Linked DNA regions of Homo sapiens: region 1 is linked to region 2. Evidence: fine-mapped expression QTL. A gene starts in region 2. The other region holds a variant in brackets. All regions are shown on one strand. Distances are between the middles of the regions.

Region 1 (2,500 bases), 39 kb after region 2:
CTACAGGCAGCCCCGCCACCATCCCAGCCGCCACAGGCCCCGCCACAAGCCCAGCCCCAGCCGCCACCGCCACCACCCCCAGCGGCACCCCAGCCCCCGCAGCCACCCACCGCTGCTGCCACCCCTCAGCCCCAATATGTCACCGAGCTGCAGAGCCCCCAGCCCCAGGCACAGCCACCGGGTGGCCAGAAGCAGTACGTGACGGAGCTCCCGGCTGTACCCGCACCCTCGCAGCCAACCGGTGCACCCACCCCTTCGCCTGCACCCCAGCAGTACATCGTGGTCACTGTCTCTGGTAAGTGCCGCGCTCGTGTGTCCTGAAAACTCCTCTCAGAGTTGTTCAGATAGCCTAGACCCTGGGTGTGAAGGCACAGGGCTGCCATGCCCCCCAAGGTTTCTGGATGGGACTTGGGGTATCACTAGGGCAGGGGTGCTTAAGCCATGCAAGGAGGCCTCTGTCCCCCCAAACTCCTTCCCACCAGAGCAGCTCTTAGAGCTTCTTTTTTTGGTTTTATTTTATTTTTTGAGACAGAGTCTCATTCTGTTGCCCAGGCTGGAGTGCAGTGGCACAATCACAGCTCACAGCAGCCTCAACCCTCCAGGCTCAAGCAATCCTTCCACCTCAGCCTCCCAAGTAGCTGAGACCACAGGTGCCCACCACCATGCCTGGCTAATTTTTAAAATTTTTTGTAGCTATGGGATCTTCCCATGTTGCTCAGGCAGGTCTCAAACTCCTGGCCTCAAATGATCCTCCCGGCCTCAAATGATCCTCCCACCTCGGTCTCCTGAGTTGCTGAGACCACAGGTGTGCAGCTGTGCCCAGCTAATTTTTTTGTTTTTTTGTATTTTTTGTAGAGATGAGGTCTCGCCATATTGCCTAGGCTGGTCTCAAACTCCTGGACTCAAGCGATCCTCCTGCCATAGCCTCCCAAAGTGCTGGGAATACAGGCATGAGTCACCATGCTCAGCCTCTTAGAGCTGTTCTGACCTCTCTTTGCAAATAAGATGTCACTGGAAGAAGGGTTTGGGCAGTGGCATCAAAGTTTGCATGCACCTGTGGGAGACAGAGGCCTGGCCTGGCTACACACCAGTCTTTTGGCCTC[C/T]CTGCTCTGGTTTCCTCATTTGTGATGGGATCATCATAGCTCCTCTCTCTCAGGGGACGCATGCGAGGGTCTCATAGCCAGGATGGCCTTGAGTGGGCACTTCAGGGAGGTCAGCTGGGGGTGAGGGCCTGGACATGTCACCTCCCCTTCCTAGAGCAGCCGCCCTGTTGTTTTGGGCAGGATCCAGGGACTGGCCCTTTTCTTTATTTTTGCTTTTCTTTCTCATGACATAAGCTAAGGCACGCAGGACCTGTGTTGAGAGCAGGCCATCTTGGACAGACCTGTTGCCCTCTGAGCATTTCCCACAGTAAACATAGTGACGATGTTTTGACTGGTTTAGGGTCTGCCTGAGGGCTGGGTCTCTGTCTCGACTGACTCAGTGCTCTGGTGGGAATGGCAGCACAGCCTGGGCATTAGGCTAGATTCGTGTGTTTTTTTGGTTTAGAGATGGGGTCTTGCTATGCTGTCCAGACTGACCTCGAACTCCTGGGCTCAAGTGATTCTCCTGCCTCAGCCTTGTAGGTAGCTGGGACTACAGGCGCCTGCCACTGTGCACAGCTAGTGTGTTTTTAATGTGCTCTGTGGTGGACGGAGGCCTCAGTGGGAGCCCGGATCAAAGCTGGCCCTGGTCCTTCTCAGAGTGGGAATGGAAGGGGTGAGATCATCAGGGCATCCTGAGGGGCTGTGGAAGGGGTGGGTCAAGATGGGATTGGGGACCATCAGGTCATAAAGAGTCATCAAAACATGTAGCAATTGGCCGGGTGTGGTGGCTCACACCTATAACCCCAGCACTTTGGGAGGCCGAGGCAGGTGGATCACTTGAGGTCAGGAGTTCGAGACCAGCCTGGCCAACATGGTGAGACCCCATCTATACTAAAAATATAAAAATTAGCTGGGCGTGGTGGCGCGAACCTGTAATGCCAGCTACTCAGGAAGCTGAGGCAGGAAAAATCACTTGAACCCGGAGGCAGAGGTTGCAGTGAGCTGAGATCGTGCCACTGCGCTCCAGCCTGGGTAACGGAGCGAGAATCCATCTCAAAAAAAAAGTAATGAAAAGTGTAGCAATTGGCCCCGTTGTGGAACAAAGCAGATGGGGCTGGAGCCCTGGGCAGTGTCCCAGAGGCTTCTGGCAGTGTCTGCGTGGGAGGTCCAGGGTCTCTGGCAGAGGTTTGGGGCGGGAACATGCAGGGACTCAGGGCAGTGACTCTTTACTATATGGACGGAGTGGAGGTGTCCGCATGAGCGCCACACTTAGTGCCCCCCCGCCTGTGTAGACACAGCCCTGCCCTGGTTGAGGTCGGGCTGCAGTCATGGGCAGGGTCTTCAGGCCACAAACCTCTGGTGGGTTCTCAGCACCCCTCAGAAATCCTGCAGCATTTCCTTAACAGTGAACTTCA
Region 2 (2,970 bases):
TCTCTAAAACTCTGAACTCCTCCTGGGCTCAAGCGATCCTCCCGCCTCGGCCTCCCAAAATGCTGGGATGACAGGTGCAAACCACCTCTCCTGGCCCTATGATTGCTATTTAATAGAGAAATGAAAAGGAGACTCAAAGAGGGAAAGTGACTTGCCCAGGGTGACACAGCAAAGAAACGAGGGAAGCTAGAATTGAAGGAGTGGAGGAGTATTGGGGGAGGGGGGCAGACTCCTGGGACTTTCTTTTCTTTTCTTTTCTTTTTTTTTTTTTTTTTTTTTGAGACAGAGTCTCCCTCTGTCCCCCAGGCTGGAGTGCAGTGGCGAGATCTGGGCTTACTGCAACCTCCGCCTCCCGGGTTCAAGCGATTCTCCTGTCTCAGCCTCCTGAGTATCAGGGACTACAGGCGCGCGCCACCACCCCTGGGTAATTTTTTTTTTTTTTTTTTTTTTGTATTTTTAGTATAGACAGGGTTTCACCATGTTGGCCAGGCTTGACTCCTGGAACCTTTCAACCAAAGCAGCCTGGGGCCTGAGCGGCCACCTCCAAAGCCTGTTTCCCCACGTCACCTCCCTGTACTCACTACTTTTGGCTCTGGAGGTGTAACTCGGAGGGGGCTCCCAGGTCCCCAAGAGGCTCCCACGAGCAGTTCAAGTCGCCCAAGGGTCCAACTCCGTAGCACTGCAGTGGCCCGGCGCTGCCTGGAGAGGGAGTCAGAGGGTCTCAGGAAAGGGGGTCGAATCCCCCCCTTCCGCCTGCACACCCCAGAACTTGGACTTCTGACAATTGCAAGGTGGGGGGGCTTAGGGAAATGAGCAGCAGGAAGGGAGGCGCTAGGCACCCCTGCCCGGGCTCCGTGCAAACCCCCCCTTTCCCTGTGCTCGCCACATCCTGTTAACCACCCAGAGAGCTCCCCCACCCCGCCCCGGGGCTCCGGTTCGACCTCGCTGCCGCCCATTCCCCAGTGTCGCCGGGTCCCTGCCCCGGGAGGAGCCGAGTGGCGCCTGCACCTCTACCGTTCGCTCTGCATACGCGTGGCTTATCCTGGAGCACTGGCGCCTTCGCGGGGAGCGCAGCGGCAGCGCCCGGGACACGAGCTCCCTCCAGCACTCACCCTGGGGACGCGTCCGCTGGAAAAGCACCCACAACAGAGGCAGCAGCGCCAGCTTGGGCAGCGGCCACAGCCAGAAAGGGGCGCCCCTGCCTCCCCGCATGGCGTCCCTCGGGAGCCCCGAGTCCGGCCCAGCCTTGCCGGGTCCGCGCGGCCGCGCTGCTCCTCTTCGAGCTCTGGGTACAGCGCCCGAGGCGGCAACGGGAAGCCGAACCACCCCGGCAGGCCGCCTCCGCACCTTTCGCTCAGGGTCCCCGCCCCTTCCCCGCGACGGAAAGTCCCCGGCTGGGGCTGCTTGAGGGGGAGTGGGGAGGCGGCCTGGGCGTCTGGGGGTGGGGGCCTCCGAGGGGTGGTACCGCGTACCGCGCATCCCCGAAACCTGTCCTACGCCCAACAACCATACACACACACACACACTCTCTGCCAAAGTCTTCGAATTTTTATTATTGGAGTTTGGGAAGATTCGAATGTGCCCAGAGCTCTCCTAGGGGGGCCACCTGCCACCTTCTCTGGGGTCCACAGCCTTGGAACTCTGGCAGGGGAGTTGGAGGGAGAGGGGATGGAAAGCAGGGCAAAGGAAGCGTGCGTGCAAAGGCTGGACTGAGACAGAGGCTTGATTTTAGCTGGTCAGGGGACAATGGCCACAGTTTGGACTGGGAAGGGGGCAGGGGTCTCTGTGTGGCCAGCCTAGGTAGAGTAGGGACCCAGTTGTGGCAGTGGAGTGTGTAGGCCAGGCAAACGCATGGTTAGGGCTGGGGAGAGGTCAGGGGTCAGGATGGGGGGGTCCCCACTTGACCAGGCAGGGGCACAGCTTCCTTAGGGGCCAGGGTCATGATAGGCTGGTCAAAGGGCAGGGTTGGATAGGTGGTGTCGGGAGACTGTGCCTGAGCCCACAGTGCCTCTGTGACTTGTAGATGAATGAATGAATGTGTGAGGCTCGAAAGACAGGTGCCCAGCCAGACACTAGTTGAGTGGATGGCAGGACTGGGGCATTGGTCCTGGTGCCCACGGCTGCCCAGCCCTCAAACTAGCAAAGGCTACTGATTTCACTTTTGCTACACCCCCACTTGCAGCAGCTGCTGGAAAGGCCAGCCAGGACATCTCGGCTGCCCCGAAGAACCCCAGGGGTTCCTTGCCAGCTGGGTCGCCCCCTGTAAAAGGCCTGGGGTGACTTGGTCAGGGCCAGCCACTCGCTGGACCCCATGGCCTCATCCAGCTCGCCTGCCAGACTGTCTTCATCAGCATCTGCATCCGGGAAGGTATCTCCTGCAAAAGATGAACAGAGTTAGTGATCAGGGCTCAGCTGCTGCTGCACCCACAGTCATGGCTCCTGGCCAGTCTAGCTCTGATCTTGTGACAACAGTCATAGACATAGTTCAGAGTTTTTATTCCACCCAGTCCTGGGTTCAAATTCTGGCTCTGCCAGAGTAGGTGGGATTACAGGTGTCTGCCAGCAGGCCTGGCTGATTTTTGTATTGTTATAGAGATGGGGTTCACCATGTTGTTCAGGCTGGTCGCAAACTCCTGACCTCAAGTGATGTGCCCACCTCAGCCACCCAAAGTGCTGGGATTACAGGCGTGAGCCACCGCACCCAGCCCTGTCATTTATTTCTCCTTACTCTTTATTAATTGAGGACCTGGTACATTTGGGAGCTGGGCTGACTGAGCATGAATCCAGCTTCTCTAATCGTGAGCAAGTAAATTTACTTCTTGGAGCCTCAATGTTCTTTTCTGCAAAGTGGAAAAAAATAATTACTCCAACCTTCTCAAGTTTTATAAGGAGTTAATATTCATTAAAAAAAAAAACTTAGAACAATGTCTGGAACATGATGAGCACTCAAAAATGACTATTGAGTCCGGG

The links.
Region 1: its variant is fine-mapped to the expression of IL27RA in blood mononuclear cells (TOPMed, PIP 0.97).

What each region holds. Positions count from the first base shown.
Region 1 is chr19:13,991,320-13,993,819 of GRCh38, reverse strand. RFX1 (regulatory factor X1) reads left to right here. Exons shown (of 21, transcript NM_002918.5): 2 at 1-295. Among named protein-coding and RNA genes, the nearest start is that of RFX1, 14 kb to the left of the region's middle. The variant C/T (reference allele first, on the strand shown) is at 1,104.
Region 2 is chr19:14,030,115-14,033,084 of GRCh38, reverse strand. It overlaps IL27RA (interleukin 27 receptor subunit alpha), which reads right to left and starts at 1,323. Exons shown (of 14, transcript NM_004843.4): 1 at 1,113-1,323; 2 at 582-699. The coding sequence starts at 1,212. RLN3 (relaxin 3) reads right to left here. Exons shown (of 2, transcript NM_080864.4): 2 at 1,534-2,375. The coding sequence ends at 2,137. RefSeq lists silencers at 1,105-1,154, 1,165-1,284, 1,295-1,344, 1,415-1,544.